Linked DNA regions of Homo sapiens. The protein of the gene in region 2 purifies or fractionates together with the protein of the main gene of each other region. This does not show direct contact. Each region holds a gene or a part of one and is shown on either strand. Other genes may lie near its edges.

Evidence for each region.
Region 1: the proteins of STAC (region 2) and ANKLE2 purify together in Homo sapiens (affinity purification with mass spectrometry; 3 studies listed by BioGRID and IntAct, with this or other methods). This does not show direct contact.

Annotation. Positions count from the first base shown.
Region 1 is NC_000012.12:132,750,880-132,759,952, forward strand, and holds part of ANKLE2 (ankyrin repeat and LEM domain-containing protein 2), read right to left. Parts: intron 4,255-9,073; coding exon 3,796-4,254; intron 1-3,795. UniProt on the Homo sapiens protein: Involved in mitotic nuclear envelope reassembly by promoting dephosphorylation of BAF/BANF1 during mitotic exit.
Region 2 is NC_000003.12:36,382,066-36,391,138, reverse strand, and holds part of STAC (SH3 and cysteine-rich domain-containing protein), read right to left. Parts: intron 1-9,073. UniProt on the Homo sapiens protein: Promotes expression of the ion channel CACNA1H at the cell membrane, and thereby contributes to the regulation of channel activity.

The DNA.
Region 1 (9,073 bases), on a different chromosome or scaffold from region 2:
GAGAAGAGTGACTGGAGAGCTGTCACCTGGCCATGCCCTGGGCCTAACCATCAGCTTCCACATCTGCTACCCAGTCGCCTGGCTTAGTTCAGATCTTTAATCCTGAAGAAAAAGGGCCTAAGCTAGCCAAAATAGAACAATTAACAAGCTCGACAGTGTGCATATATGCATGTAACATGATATATATTATGTTCATATATGTAATTCTATATGCCAAGATTCTATCCTAAAAACTAAATTTCATATAAAGATCTAAATAAAAATTATTAAAAGGCAAATTAAAAAAAAAAACTATAATTATGTCAGCCAAGAACATAAGAGAATTTTAAACACAATTTTGAACAGGGAACGCCTTTTTATTTTTTACTTTATTTTTTTTTTTGGAGACGGAGTCTCGCTCTGTCGCTCAAGCTCAAGTGCAGTGGCACGATCTTGGCTCTTGCAACCTCTGCCTCCCAGGTTCAAGCGATTCTCCCGCCTCAGCCTCCCGAGTAGCTGGGATTATGGGCATCCGCCACCATGCCTAATTTTTTGTATTTTTAGTAGAGACGGGGTTTCATCATGTTGGCCAGGCTGGTCTCAAACTCCTGACCTCAGGTGATCTGTCCGCCTCGGCCTCCCAGAGTGCTGGGATTACAGGTGTCAGCCACGGCGCCCAGCCGGGAATGGCTGTTTTTTTTTGACATGGAGTCTCACTCAGCTGCCGAGGCTGGAGTGCAGTGGTGTGATCTTGGCTCACTGCGACCATCATCTCCCAGGTCCAAGCGATTCTCCCGTCTCAGCCTCCCGTGTAGCTGGGATTATAGGCACCGGCCACCATGCCTGGCTAATTGTTGTATTTTTAGTAGAGACGGGGTTTCACCATGTTGGCCAGGCTAGTCTTGAACTCCTGACCTTAGGTGACCTGCCCACCTCAGCCTCCCAAAGTGCTGGGATTACAGGCATGAGCCACTGTACCCGGCTGGGAATGCCTTTTTAAACATGCCAAGAAACCATTCAAAACAAGATAATCCTGATTATATAAAAATATTAAAGCTCTGTAGTGGAACTATCACAATTAAGTTTTGTATGAGACTATCGTAAATACATAAGATATACACTACTGGCCAGGAGACAAAAATTTATGAACAATGTAACAGACGAATGGTTACTGTCCACTACTGGATAAAAATAGCCATAGTTCGGGCACGGTGGCTCACGCCTGTAATCCCAGCACTTTGGGAGGCTGAGGCAGGTGGATCACCTGACGTTGAGAGTTTGAGACCAGCCTGACCAACGTGGAGAAACCCTGTCTCTACTAAAAATATAAAATTAGCCGGGCGTGGTGGCACACCCCTGTAGTACTAGCTACTCGGGAGGCTGCAGCAGGAAAATCACTGGAACCCAAAAGGCAGAGGTTGGAGTGAGCCAAGATCGCACCACTGCACTCCGGCCTGGCGACAGACCGGGACTCTGTCTCAAATAATAAGTAAATAAATAAATAAATAATAAAAATAAAAACTGCACCATGATCATTTCCCAGTGTTACTTTCTTTTTTTTGAGATGGAATCTAGCTCTGTCGCTCAGGCTGGAATGCAGTGGCACAATCTCAGCTCACTGCAACCTCAGCCTCCTAAGTAGCTGGGACTACAGGTGCCCACCACCACACCCCGCTAATTTTCTGTATTTTTAGTAAAGACGGGGCTTCACCGTGTTAGCCAGGATGGTCTCGATCTCCTGACCTCGTGATCTGCCTGCCTCGGCCTCCCAAAGTGCTGGGATTACAGGCGTGAGCCACCGCGCCCGGCCCCTACGTATTCTTTAAAAAGATCTTACAGAACAATATTCCATTCTATTCATAGTGTTTAACCAATTATGTACTCATAGGCGTCACCACAAATGGTATCACAGTAATAACAATACTCATAACAGTGTGCAATTTCTGGCATCCCAATTAATACTGAGTTCTCATTTCTTTTTTCCAATGCTAAATCTTCTTTAAAATTACAATTCTTGGGCTGGGCACAGTGGCTCACACCTGTAATCTCAGCACTTTGGGAGGCTCAGGTGGGAGGACTGCTTGAAGCCAGGAGTTCAAGACCAGACTAAGCAATAAAGCGAGACCCAGTCTCTTAAAAAAAAAAAAAAAAATTTAATTACCTAGGTGTGGCCAGGCGAGGTGGCTCACGCCTGTAATCCCAGCACTTCGGGAGGCTGAGCCTGGCAGATCACTTGAGCCCAGGAGTTGGGAGACCAGCCTGGGCAACATGGGGAAACATTGTCTCTACCAAGAATACAAAAAAACTGGCGCGTACTGGCACGTGCCCGTGATCCCAGCGATCCCAAGCTACTCCGGAGGCTGAGGTGGGAGGACTCCTTGAGCCTGGTAGGCAGACATTGCAGTGAGTTGTTGAGATTGCATCACTACACCCCAACCTGGGTGAGAGAGAGACCCCAGTCTCAAAAAAAAAAACCACCAAAAACAACCAATTAGCTAGGCGTGCTGGTGTGTGCCTGTAATCTTAGCACTTTGGGAGACCAAGGTGGGTGGATCGCTTGAGGGCAGTTCGAGAGAAGCGTGGGCAACGTGGCGAAACCCCGCCTCTATAAAAAATACAAAAATTGGCTGGGCGTGATGGCTCACACCTGTAATCCCAGAACTTTGGGAGGCCGAGGTGGGCAGATCACGACGTCAGGGGTTCGAGACCAGCTTGGCCAAAATCGCGAAACCTTGTCTCTACTAAAAATACAAAAAATAAAAAATTAGCTGGGTATGGTGGCGGGCGCCTGTAGTTCCCAGCTACTCAGGAGGCTGAGGTTACAGTGAGCTGAGATCGCACCACTGCACTCCAGCCCAGGTGACAGTGCGAGACTCTGTCTCAAAAAAACAAAACAAAACAAAACAAAAAAAAACCATAAAAATTAGCTGTGCGTGGTGGCGTATGCCTGTGGTCCCAGCTACTCAAGCGGCTGAGGTGGGAGGATCACCTGAGCCAGAAAGGTTGAGGCTGCAGTGAGCTGTGACTGCACCACTGCAATGCAGCCTAGGTGGCAGAGTAACACCCTGTTTCAGATGAATGAATAAATTAAAAAAATAAAATGGCCAGGCGCGGTGGCTCAAGCCTGTAATCTCAGCACTTTGGGAGGCCAAGGCAGGTGGATCATGAGGTCAGGAGTTCAAGACCAGCCTGGCCAAGATGGTGAAACCCCGTCTCTACTAAAAATACAAAAAATTAGCCAGGCGCGGTGGCAGGCGCCTGTAATCCCAGCTACTCAGGAGGCTGAGGCAGGAGAATCGCTTAAACTGGGAGGGGAGAGGTTGCAGTGAGCTGAGATCACGCCACTGCACTCTGGCCTGGGCAACAGAGTGAGACTTTGTCTCAAAAAATAAATAAATAAATAAAAACAAAATAAAACCACAAATCTTTGATGCTGAAAAGTATTTATACACTCATTGGCCATTTGCATTCATTAACATAAAAGATGTGCAGGTTACACTGCATTTTAAAAAGGCGGAGATGACTAATCAACAAAGTTCCTAACCAACAGCAGCAGCCAGTTAATATTAATATCTCAGTCCAGCATATCTCATAGAATCCAATTTACCTCACAAATTTTAACAGTTCTCATGTTAAATTCACAAATATTTCAGAAAAGTTCTACATAAAAATGTTAACAATGGTTAACTGGGGTGATGAGATGGAGGGGATTGGATTTTTTCCTTCTTAATCTGTAGTTTTCCATTTTCAGACGTCATCCCGCCCCTCCGCGTATGTGCTATCTGTGTGAGGAAATCCTACACACGGTCCCATTACCATTTCTCGCTGGGACGTCCTCATACACTGGACACACCCCATAGTACAGGGGCGGCTCCTTAGACGCAGTCGCTCCAGCTCTGTAGGTGTCGGTGTCACTAGGGGGCACCGAGCAGGTCTTGGATGTCACAGCTTCCTCCTCTGGAGGATTCAGGCCCACACTGTAACCAAAATCTCTGTCTTCAGAAAAACCAGCCTGATCAGTTGGGTTCCCTTCAGCTGGCTTCAAAATCCTTTGTGGGTCCTGGCTGAGAGCTGTGACACCTGCCTCATGGTGGTAGAAAGAAGACAGCCTTCCTCCTTGCTCCAGTAAAGCCTGAGCCAATTTTTTCTCAAAAATGAACCTTGTAGTTGATGTAATGGGTCCACATTTCAATCCGGCTTTGACGATTTCTTCTCTAAGGTCATCTGGATTCAGAAGTTTCAATCGAGCCAACAGAGCATCCATTGTCATTTCACCTAGGCCCAAGACAAAAAAATCAAAGAGTCACAAAATACTAACACCTGCTGAAGCTGGGTGATGGGTACTAGGGTTCATTATATAATGGCATCAGTTTCTGTTTCTTTCATTAAAAACTTTTTTTCTTGGCTGGACGCGGTGGCTCACGCCTGTAATCCCAGCATTTTGGGAGGCTGAGGCGGGCGGATCATCTGAGGTCAGGAGTTCGAGACCAGCCCGGCCAACATGGTGAAACCACGTCTCTACTGAAAATACAAAAAATTAGCCGGGTGTGGTGGCGGATGCCTGTAATCCCAGCTACTTGGGAGGCTGAGGCTGGAGAATCGCTTGAACCCAGGAGGCGGAGGCTGCAATTAGCCGAGATCACACCCCTGCACTCCAGCTTAGACAACAAGAGCGAAACTCCAGCTCAAAAAAAAAAAAAGAATTTTTCTTTTTTTTTTCGAGATGGTGTCTCCCTCTGTCGCACAGGCTGGAGTGCAGTGGTGCTATCGCAGCTCACTGCAACCTCTACCTCCTGAGTTCAAGTGATTCTCCAGCCTCAGCCTCCCAAGTAGCTGGGACTACAGGCGCCTGGAATCACACCTAGCTAATTTTTGTATTTTTAGGAGAGACGGGGTTTCACCATGTTGGCCAGGTTGGTCTTGCACTCCCGACCTCAGGTGATCCACCTGCCTTGGCCTCCCAAAGTGTTTGGATTACAGGCGTGAGCCTTTTTTCTTTTTGAGACGGAGTCTCGCTCTGTCACCAGGCAGGCTGGAGTGCAGTGGTGCGATCTCAGCTCACTGCAACCTCTGCCTCCTGGGTTCAAGCGGTTCTCCTGCCTCAAGCCTCCCGAGTAGCTGGGATTACAGGCGTGCACCACCACGCCCAGCTAATTTTGTACTTTTAGTAGAGACGGGGTTTCTCCATGTTGGTCAGGCTGGTCTTGAACTCCCAACCTCCCAAAGTGCTGGGATTACAGGCATAAGCCACCATGCCCAGCCCGTTGTATTCTTTGGGAGGCAGGCAGATCACCTGAGGTCGGGAGTTCGAGACCAGCCTGGCCAACATGGTGAAACCCTGTCTCTACTAAAAATACAAAAATTAGCCGGGCGTGGTGGTACATGCCTGTAACCCCAGCTACTCGGGAGGCTGAGGCAAGAGAATTGCTTGAACCCAGTAGGTGGAGGTTGCAGTGAGCCGAAATCACGCCACTGCACTCCAGCCTAGGGGACAAGAGCAAGACCTTGTTTCAAAAAAAAAAAATTACCCGAGCATAGTAGTGCACACCTACAGCCCCAGCTACTCAGGGGGCTGAGGCAGGAGGATCACTTGAGCCTGGGAGGTGGATGCCACCACGAGCTGAGATGGCAACCCTGCACTCCAGCCTGGGTGACAGAATCAGACCCTGTCTCAACAACAACAACAAAAAAAAAGATGGCGGGGGGGAGTAATACATCTGAATTTAAGTTTCTACAGGGTTCTGACTTTTAAAAACATGTTCGTGATTTACATACTCAAATAAGTAAAGCCGGGTGCGGTGGCTCACGCCTGTAATCGCAGCACTTTGGGAGACCGAGGTGGGTGGATCACGAGGTCAGCAGTTCGAGACCAGCCTGGCCAAGATGGTGAAACCCCATCTCTACTAAAAAAAAAATACAAAAATTAGACAGGCGCAGTGGCGGGCACCTGTAATCCCAGCTACTCGGGAACCTGAGGCAGGAGACTCGCTGGAACCCAGGAGGCAGAGGTCACAGTGAGCCGAGATCGCACCACTACACTCCAGCCTGGGCAACAGAGCGAGACTCCACCTCAATAAAACAACAACAACAAAAAAAACAAAAAAAAAAGAAATAAGTAAATAAACAAAAAGATGGGGGAGACACCCACATGGAATACTAGCCAGAAGAAATGCACCTAACTGTATTACAAGTGAGTAACACAGGGGAAGCTAACCTACGTAACTTTGGAAAACAGTGAGTGACTAGGTGCTCTAAGGAGAAAGACAAAAAGGACTGTGCACCATTACCGTGTGAACAGGCTCTAGGCAGTAGATGTTTTCACAATGGTATAGGTTAACACACCTAAAGCTATTTTCTGTGGACTCTAGGGCAAAGCAAATAATTGGAATACACGGTGGCTGATGAGAGCCAGGACTCTCAATGACAGAAAGGAAAGTGGGAGTGAGAACAGGGTTTCAGCAAACGATTCCTGTAAAGGGCGAGAGAGTAAGCATCTCAGACTCTATGAGCCAAAGGCCACGTGAGTGCTCAGAACAGCCACAGGCCGCGTGTGGCGGCTCACACCTGTCACCCCAGCGCTTGGGGAGGCCGAGGCGGGAAGATCACTTGAGCCCAGGAGTTCAAGACCAGCCTGGGTAACACAGCGACACCCTTTCTACAAAAACTTTAAAAATTATCTGATGGCTGGGCGCGGTGACTCATGCCTGTAATCCCAGCACTTTGGGAGGCCGAGGCAGGTGGATCATGAGGTCAGGAGATTGAGACTATCCTGGCAAACACGGTGAAACCCTGTCTCTACTAAAAATACTAAAAAATTAGCCGGCCATGGTGGCGGGCGCCTGTAGTCCCAGCTACTCAGGAGGCTGAGGCAGGAGAATGGTGTGAACCCAGGGGGCAGAACTTGCAGTGAGCAGAGATGGCGGCACTGCACTCCAGCCTGGGCGACAGAGCGAGACTCCGTCTCAAAAAAAAAAAATTAGCTGAGTGTGGTGACGTGCACCTGTGGTTCCAACTACTTGGGGGGCTGAGGAAGGAGGATAAATTAAGCCTAAGAGTTTGAGGATGCAGTGAGCCCTGTTTGTGCCACTGCACTCCAACCTGGGCAACAGAGCAAGACCCCGTCTCCAAAAAAAAAAAAAAAAAGAACAGCCACAGATATACATAAACAAAAGGGTATGGTTGTATTCCAATAAAACTTTACTAAGGAAAATAGGTGGGGGCCAGTTTGGACCACAGTTTACTGACTCTTGCATTAGAATAAAGCCAGGGAGCCGGACACGGTGGCTCATGCTGGTAATCCCAGCACTTTGGGAGGCCAAGGTGCATGGATCATTTGAGGTCAGGTGTTTGAGACCAGCCTGGCCAACATGATGAAACCAGGTGTCTACTAAAAACACAAAAATTAGCCAGGCATGGTGGCATGCACCTGTCATCCCAGCTACTCAGCAGGCTAGGTGGGAGAATCGCTTGAACTGGGCAGGCAGAGGTTGCAGTGAGTCTCCAGCCTGGACAACAGAGTGAGACTCCACCTAAAAAAAAAAGAATAAACCCGCGGACGTCGCATTGAAATTGGAAGTATCAGTATGATCACAAGGTCTTTGACAGATCGATGGGTAAAGATGTGAGAAACAGCTAGGTCTGAACACTGGGTTATAATGTTCCATTAACAATTTTTTTTTTTTTGAGATGGAGTCTTGCTCTGTCGCCCAGGCTGGAGTGCAGTGGCACGATCTCTGCTCACCGCAACCTCCACCTCCTGGGTTCAAGCAATTCTGCTGCCTCAGCCTCCCGAGTAGCTGGGATTACAGGTACCTGCCACCACGCCCCGCTATTTTTTTGTATTTTTAGTGGAGACTGCCTCACCATGTTGGCCAGGCTGATCTTGAACTCCTGACCTTGTGATCCACCTGCCTCGGCCTCCCAAAGTGCTGGGATTACAGGCATGAGCCACCGCAACCGGCCAAGTACACAACTTTTGAGACTGGCTTTTCCTATTCAGCATAATGCCCTTGAGATCCACCCACGTGGCAGAGTGGATCGCTGCGGAGTGGCACCCCGGGGCACCCACGTGGCAGAGTGGATCACGCAGTGTGGCACCCCGGGGCACCCACGTGGCAGAGAGGATCGCTGCGGAGTGGCACCCCGGGGCACCCACGTGGCAGAGTGGATCGCTGCGGAGTGGCACCCCGGGGCACCCACGTGGCAGAGAGGATCGCTGCGGAGTGGCACCCCGGGGCACCCACGTGGCAGAGTGGATCACGCAGAGTGGCACCCCGGGGCACCCACGTGGCAGAGAGGATCGCTGCGGAGTGGCACCCCGGGGCACCCACGTGGCAGAGTGGATCATGCAGAGTGGCACCCCGGGGCACCCACGTGGCAGAGAGGATCGCTGCGGAGTGGCACCCCGGGGTATCAGTGTGCAAGTTTAACCATTTGAGTTATTTCAGTTTCTGGTAATTACAAATAAAGTTGCTATGAACATTAAATATGGGTTTTTGTGTGAAAATAGTTTTCATTTGTCTAATAAAAGCTCAGGAATGCAGGGCAGGTTTAACTTCCTAAAAACCTGCCAGGCTGATTCCCAGAGTAGCTGCACCACTTACCGTCCCCACCTGCAATGCACGAGGCCCAGTTTCTCTAAATCTCTGCTGACTATATATATGTATACTATATGTGCTATATGATATACACGTATCATATGCCATGATATACGTATATTATACATCATATATAAAAACATATTTTTATATAAAATAAATCAGTATTTTTTTATTTCAGCCATTCTCAAAACACCACCCTCACCCGCCGCCACCTTGTCCGCAGCTCTGCCTGGATGATGCCGCTGGTGACAGTAACAGCACTCAGAGGTGCTTAACACATACCAAGTGCTGCACTTACCCAACTCCCAAAAAAGCCTAACCAGGTATCACTATCATCCCCATTCCTAAAAGAGCAGGCTGAAAACAGGTTAAGCCCACAGCAATAAGTGGTAGGGCCCGGTGCGATGGCTCACACCTGTAATCCCAGCATTTTGGGAAGCTGAGGCAGGTGGATCACCTGAGGTCAGGAATTCGAGACCATCCTGGCCAACATG
Region 2 (9,073 bases):
TCAAATCCAGATCTAAGGAATCAGTGTTACACAGAAATAGAGAAGTATAAAAGAGGGTATGAACATGATGGAATTCATGGGAATCCTGCCAGAGAGAGGGAAGATGGGACGAGACTGAAGGAAGTTCCCAGGGCTGTCCTCCTATAACCCATCTGGAGATCTTATGAAGATTTAAGTAAAATGGATAATTTTCTGGTAAAATACAAGTTAACAAATCTGACTCAAGCCAATTTAGGAAAAAAGGAATAGAATTTAATAATGGAAAAAAATTTTCAAATTTTGTTTTAAGATAGGTGACAGGTTTAGATATTATTGGCATTTTTTTAAACATTCAAAGAGAGTATTATTTGTGGGTTCCATAAAATGTTCCATACATAAAAATACAAAAACAAAATAAAAACATTCATGGACATGTTCCCAATTCATTTTCTGAAACTTGGCATAGCCTTAAAAATAAAATCTGACCAAGAACACAAAAGTGACAGTTATCGAACAATCTCCCTTATGTATGTGGATGTAAAAATAATAAAGCATTGGCAATCAAAACCCGGGAGTTTATTAAAAGAAAATCCCCATGGCCAAGCAGGACTTGTTCCAGGACTGTAATAAGAGTTTAATATTAGGATATCTATTAATATAATCCATCAGATAAAGAGACCAAAGGACAAAAAAAAAAAAAAAAAAAAAGAAAAGAAAAATCACATGATTACTTCCATACTTGCCAAAAAGTCATCTGAAACAATTTCACATCTATTCCTGATGGAAATTCTTCATAAGCTAGGAACACGACCTATCTTTAAAATGAGAAAGACTGTCTTAGTTTAATTGTGAACATGAGTGGGATGTCTGGAATTTGTGTAGAAGGGGATCTTAAGGAATGACTTAGTTGGAAATGGATTTGTCTTTAAGTTGAATTTGCAGTGCACCACATGATTTTTCTCAGGCTGTATAAGTACTTTTGGTGGCTTCTAGAGTGGCTAGTGGTTTACAGGAGAGCTAAGGCCACCTGTCAGCACCAATACTGTACAATACTACATGTATAGTAAAACACTAGTGGCATTTAAAGTTAAGTCATGTGCCAGCCTGGTATCTCTCTAATATTTACCATACTTTTGGAAGTTCTCCAGCAATAAACCCCTGTCCCTACCCACTGCACTCCCTTCCCCCCCAAATGAAAGAGAATTATAGTTACAGAGGCAAAATTATTATTTCACATATTATGATAATCTGAATTTGCTTGCTATATGCCAGGCTCTGTGTTAAGCACTTTACATACACTAATTAACTTGAATGGCAATGCTGCAGAGGACATTATTATGCTCACTTTATGGAAAGCACAGTGAATCTCTGGGAAGTGAGGGACAGGAAAGCTTGTTAAGTGGCATCCTAAACTGGCACAATGGGATTTGAACATGGCTGTGTCTGTGCCCATGCTCTGAACTAGTAAGCAACATTGTATTTCTTTACTAATGGATAAGAAATGGAATATAAATGATTTTAGATTATAAAATTAATATAAAAATGAATTTCTTATGTGCCAGCTATCACCAGTTAAAAAATATAAAAATGGTAATTCATAATAGTAAGTCAGAGTATAAAATACTGTGTGCTATGTTCTTAATGTTTGTGTTCCCCTGAAATTCATTTGTTGAAAATTAATCCACCAGTATGACGGTATTAAAAGGCGAGGGCTTTGGGAGGTGATTAGGACATGAGGGCAGAGCCTTCATGATTCGGATTAGTGCCCTTATAAAGAGGCCTCAGAGCACTACCTTGCCCCTTCCACCATGAGACAACACAGCTACAGGATTCCATCTATAAACCAGGAAACAGGCCCTCTGCTGATGCCTTGATCTTGGATTTTCCAGCTTCTACAACTGTGACAGATACATTTCTGTTGTTTATAAACCCAGTTTATGACATTTTGTTTTAGCAGCCTGAATGGACCAAGACAGTTGGAAAATAGCTAACAAAGAATTTTGGCAGGAAATATTTGAGGACAATTTCAAGCATTTATGAGAGGCATAAAAGACAGGCGTTTCAATAACTACAGATATACTATGTTTTTGGATAAGAAATCTCATAATTGTAAAGATTTCACTGAAATAATATTAGGAGTTTCATGAAATTGCTTTCAAAATATTGTTTTTATAATTTGGTAGAAAACGAAAAGTTGAGTGCAGATAAATATAAAACTTCCAAGAGGGTACTTGTATTATTAATTATCAAACTCTATTATTAAGCTACAAAAATTGAAGCATAATAGTCATGCAAGAGTACAGTACAATAATAAGTGCAAAAATAAAGTTACAAAACATTAGAATATGACAGATAACTCTAAAAGAGAATCTAATACATATTACCATTTATTACATAAAAAACGTAAAATTTCAAATCAGTGAAAAAAGAATAAATTATTCAACAAATGGTTTTAGAAATACTGATTCATCATTTGGGAAAAAATAGATTTCTTCATACTACATAATGATATAAATTCCAGATGGATGAAAATGATAAAAGCAAAAAGTACATATTGAGGATCTAGAGAAATGATACAGGTTATTTTATTTTTCTGTTCTCAGGGTTGGGAAGTCCTTTCTAAATATAATTGAAAAGAAGAAAACATAGCTAAATAAATTTGAGACATTTAAAACCATAAAAAAGGAAACTTCTACATTGAAAATGTAATAGAATTGAAAAAAGACAAATTTCAATCTGGGAAAATGTTAGCAATGTATCTGAAAGGTTGAATTTAATATTTATAAATAATTTTTTAAAACCAATAGGAAATGAAAAAACAGTATTAAAATGGACAAGGACATGAACAGATAATTCACATACCAAAAAAGACAAGTAATAAAAAGGCATGAAAAATAACCCTTTCGATGAATAAATGTAAGTAAAATGATAATAAAATTCAATACTTCTGCATCATTCAAATTTGCTGGTTAGAAAGCTATAATACTACAATCCAACAACAAAAACCAAACAATCTAATTTTAAAATGGACGAAGGCCTTGACTAGATATTTCTCCAAAGAAGATATACAAATAACCTATAAGCACATAAAAACATGATCTACATCACTAAACATGAGATACCATCTTGTACCCATCAGGATCAACAAAACCCAGAAAATAACAAGTATTGGTGAGGATGCAGAGAAACTGGAATCCTTGTGCATTACTCGTCAGAATCCAAAACTGTGCGACCACTGTGGAAAATAGGATGGCAATTTCTCAAAAAATTAAACATAGAATCACCAGATGATCCAGCAATTGCACTTCTGGTTATATACCCATAAGAAATGAAAGAGGGGACTTCAACAAGTATTTGCACACCCACTTCATAGCAGCATTATTCAGAGTAGCTAAAAGGTAGAAACAGCCCAAGTATTCACTGATGCATTAATGGATAAACAAAATGTAGTATATATATACAATGGGATATTATTCAGCTTAAAAAAGAAGGGAATTCTGATACATGCCACAACATAGATGAGCTGTGAAGACATTATGCTAACTGAAATAATTCAATCACAAAAGGACAAATATTATATGATTTCTCTTATATGGTAAACCCGGAATAGTCAAATTCATATAGATAAAAAGGAAAATGGTAGTTGCCAGAGACTGGGGAAAGAAGGGGATGGGGAATTAGTAATTAATGTTGAATGGGTACAGAGTTACAGTTGGAGATGATAAAGATGTTCTGGAGATGAGTGGTGGTTATGGCTGCACAACAGTGTGAATGTACTTAATGCCGTAGAACTGTACACTTAAAAATGGTTAAAATGGTAAACTTTACATTACGCATATTTTACCACAGTCAAGAAAAACCTAGGTTGGTTTTGATGTCTACGTGGAGTAGAATCTAAAAAAGAAGGAAAAAAATGAACTAGAAACAAAATTCTTACCAACTCAGGTTGATGATAAAGAAATCTTAGTTTAGTCTTAAGGTGGACAAAAATAAATAAGTAAATATAAAATATTTATCTTGGAATTCTTATTCATGGATCTGCCCTCACATAGATTTGAGGCTTGAATTTAGACAGCAAAAGTTGGTTTGGTAAACCCCAAACTGAAAAAGTAACAAAATTTGGTTCCTCTCAATGATGTCTTAGGGGACTTGACAAAAGCAAATACTCTGGAGTGAGAACATGCCCATTCTCTCCACATGGATTTATAGATTCAATGCAGTTCCATTCAGAATCCCAGCAGGTGTTTTTGTGCAAATTGATCAGGTGATTCCAAAGTGCACGTGGAAATGCAAGGAATCAAAAATAACTCAAATCTGTTTTGAAAAAGAAGAGCAAAGCTCCAGGGCTTACGCTACCAGATATCAAGACCTTTTAAATAAAATCATTACATTTAAGACAGTGCTGTACTGGTAGAAGGTTAGACAAAGAGGCCAATGGGCAGAATAGAAACTTGCACATATACAGTCAAATTATTTATGGATAGCAAAAGTGGCATAGTCAAAATGAATCTTGACCCTTACCTCACACCATACCAAAAAAGCAATTCCAAATGAATTGTAAATCCACCTGTGAAAGGCAAATAATAACAATTCTAGAAAATAATAATAGAATATCTAAATGACTTTGGAATAGGCAAAGATTTCATAAGCAGTACACAAAAAGCACAACCATAGAAGAGAAAAATGTAAGAATTAGACTACATTAAATTAGGAATTTCAGTGAAGAAGAAAAAAGGTAAGCCTTTTTTTTTTCAGTGTAGAAGAGAATATCTGCAATACATTTTTTCTCTCAACGTTCTCATATCCAGAATATGAGAAGAACCCCTACAAATTAATAAGAAGCAAATAACCCAATAGAAAAATGGCAAAAGACTTGAACAACTACATAAGAAGACATCAAATGCCATAAACATGTAAAAACTGCTAAGCTTATTAGTCATTGGGGAAATACAAGTTAAAACCACATTGCAATACCATTAATTGCTTATTAGATGGCCAAAATGAGAAAGATAATATGAAACGATGGTAGCACAAAGAGTGGATTGAAGTCTTATACATTGCTGGCAGGAATATGAAGTGGTACAGCCATTTTGAAAAGTATGTTAAAGCTGAACATGTGTATACCCTATAAGCCAGAAATGCCACTTCTAGGTATATACCCAATAGAAGAGCTTCATATGTGCCACAAAGAATATATATAAGGAATGTTCATAGCAGTATGGCTTATAGCAGCCCAAAACAAGAAACAATCCAAATGTCCATCATCAGTAGAGTAGGTAAATAAACTGTGTTCCATTCATACAATGGAATGTTATATGGTAATAAAAATGAAAACTATTGCTACCTACAATGGCACAGATAATTTCAACATAATGTTGAGTGAAAGAAGTCAGGCATAAAATATTGTATGATTCAATTTATCAAAAGTTCAGAAATGAGCAAATAATTTATGTTGTTAGAGTGAGGATACTATTTACCTTTAGGAGGTTAGTGATTAGAAAGGGGTATGAGAGAGATTCTGGGGTGTCAGTAATATTCTTTTTGTGATTTATGAGGTGGTCACACAAAGGTCAAGAGTTTATCTTTTTGAAAATTCATCAAGCTATAAACTTTTAATATGTGCAGTTTTGGGGATGATGTTGTACTTTGATGAAAAGTTTACTAAAAAAAAGACTATAATACAACTTTTTCTGAGGTCACTGTGGTTATGAGAATAAAATACCTTAGAAGTGTTTATACTCAGACCTAGTTAATTCTATTTGTCATGAAACTGATCAGAAACATATACAAATATTTATGCATTGGAATGTATATTTTAATATTTTTTAAATGTATGAAATCTGGGAAAGAACCTAAATATGAAATCAGAAGGGACTGCTGAAATTGATGTGGTAGAACAATGAAATGGAATATTAGGCTATCTTCAATATTTGTGTGGTTGGTTACTTAAAAGTATAGGAAGACTACGTATAACATTAGGTGGAAGAAAAAGCAAAACTTGGGTTTATGTATACACTATTCTAATTCTGTTTTCAGTGGGCATCTGTATAGAAAATACTGATGCTTGAGATCTCTCTCAGAGATTTCAACTTAGTGGTTCTAGCCTATGGCCTGGGTTCCCTTGGTGATTTCAATGCAAAGCCAAGGTTTCGTTTTCTTTCATCTTCTTCCCTGAATAGAAGTTAAATTCCTTATTAATAACAGCTTCACATATATGTATGAGATATGCTGGGCACAAAGTAGGCACTCAATAAATAATTGCTGATAGATGGACACAGAAATCTTTCTGGGAGATTCAGGGCACGTCTTCATGGTTAGAGATTTCTTTTTCATAGGTTGGATTGTGGTCCAGGTTCAGAAATAATCCTCCAGGAATGAGGGTCACTTTGGTCCGTGGCTCCACTAGGGCACTGGGTGGCTTATAGCACCATTTCAAAATCTAAATCACATGCTGGTGAGTCTATGTCTTATCTTCTTGGGGATGCAAAATAGCTGAAGTGAAGTCTCATTGTAATCAATTAGCATAACTAAAAGCCCAAAGAGGTAAACTCAGTTACATTATGGTAATGTCAGTTGTGGTTATTGAAATTATTCCAATGATGACATTTGGGGTTGGCTGGTGGTAGCAGTCATCTGATTTGAAACAAATAGAGAAAATAAATAATGGTTTATGTTTGTGTATGCTTATAACAAACATATTAGGTGTATTACATATTCTTAGGCCTTACAAAAAGCACACCAATTGGGTAGTAGCAGCCCCATCAGCATCCCCATGAGGAAGCTGAGGCTTTGAGGTATTAGGCATGTTCACAGAGGTGTGTCAATCTCACCTTTGATATTGATGATATTGAGGTGTGATTCCTCAATATCATCAAAATGTGACCTTGTGTCATATAAGTGATGACAAAGAGATTTATAGCAAACCTTCACATTAGACACTAGCAAGCTTTCTATGTTGTCAATAAGTCAGTAGGAGAAAAGATATTCATTGAAATAAGGGATAATGGGACATGAAATTTTTGTTTATATTCAATGGTCTCTGTCAAGCCCTTAAAAAATAAATTAGGCTGTCATCTTTCTGAAATAGTTAGTGGGAAGATAGAAGGGTATGATACATCAGTGGCTTTCAAACTTATTCAACTCAACTAATTTCATAAAGAAGAAAACCCACAATTACATTAAACTATATTATGACTTGTGCTTACAGAAATTTGCTCTGAGGAAACTGTACTGGGATACCAAAGTCCAAGACGGGGTTTGTAGGTAAGGGTATTGCCAGTAACTATCTGTGTGATCTCAGGCAAGTCACTGCCCCTTTTTGGGCCTCAATTTCCTCAAGAAAGAGAAAAAGGACATTAAGATAACCTTTGAAGCTATAGACCCTTTGTGAACCTGAGATAAGCTATAAATTCTTTCCCTAGATGATGCATATATGCATGTACATGGACAACTTTGAATGCTGGTTCGGGTTGTTCACAGATTTTCCAAAGACTATTTGTGGGCTTCTAAAGAATATAGTGGCCCTTAGCTTAAAACACCTGAAATATGTGCTAATTGGGATTATAGTCATGTTTATGAAAATAAAATGAAAATAACCCTTATCCTTGAGAGATGTAACCTGATAGCATATTTACGGGTGAAGTTATTTCATGTCTGGAATTTGCTTTAAAATGATCCAGTATGTGTAGGGTGGTGGTGGTGGTGGTAATACATAAAACAATACTGTCCATGAATTAATTGTGAAGCCACATGATTAGGTCCATGACAGTTCTTTATACTGTTTTCTCTACTTTTGTGTATATTAAAATTTTCCATAATAAATTTTCACAGTGAAAATGATCTAACCTTTCTTGGCTTCCACTTCCCCATCCATAAAATAGAAATATTAACAGAATCTTCTATTGTGAAGATTAAGGTTGTATCTGACTTACAGTAAACATTCAGTAGATGCTCACTATTGTTCTCGCTCAACTATGTAAATATATAAACAGATTTAAAAAGACATGAGATATAGATCAAAGTTTTATTAGTAGATGCTTCTGGATGGTAAACCAAGAGCTAATTTATTTTTCTTTTCATCATTTATGTCTGGACTGTTCAAATATCTACAAAGAGTATTTGTTACTCTTATAATAAGACAAAAAAACCTAACTCTTTAAAAAAAGTAACTTTAAGTCTTCCTTGAGAGAGTTTAATGCCAAGGGGGCCTGAACCATGTTTGTCCCACAAGATATTTTACAAACAAGACCACTTCATGGAAGAGTAAGATGGAATGCATATTACTGTCTTGTTCACATTTTCCTCACCAAGCTCTCATGCTCAGGGTCAAAGATCCTTGTAAACGCCAGTAAGCTTTAACATGTGGCCTTCCTAGAATAGAATGAATTGAGCCTTCCTCTCCTCCAGTGTCATGCCATCCTACTCCCTTACCTTACCACACGTTCCTCCCTACTAGCAGTTTAGCCTTTTTTAAGGGGCATGGATCACTTTGAGAATATCATGAATGCTATGCCAAGAAAAATTCACATGTAGGCATACAATATTGCATTCAATTTCCTAGGGTTCATGGGCTGCCATAGTTCATCTCCACTAATTAAGCTTACTGAGGCCATGACATCAAATTTAGGAATGTAGAAACACACATCCGGTGTATAGACCACTTTGAGAAAAACTAATTTGTACAAAACCATAAGCCAGATAAATTGGTGGATAATTATGGGCATTACATATGTGGCTTTTGCTCTGCCAAATAATTTCCATTAGGACATCTATAAATAGCAAATCCATATAATGCATTTGAACCATGCCACTGTTTGCCCAAATGCTAAGCCCTTTCCAGAACACGCCTACTGCAGAGCAACAGGCCAATTCAAAAAGTTCAATACTAGTTTTACTCTTGAGTTCAGCTACATTCATTTATAGAATTCTAGCTTTCCTCTAAAATGGCCACTAACCTATATCACTCTGGGGACTGATGTTCAATGGGAGGCAATGATACCCAGAAACTTTTTGACTGAGGAGAGGTAGTGCATGTGTATGGGTTATCAGATTGCTTTGGAGTGGATCATTTGAGATGAGATAGATTCCATCTCTT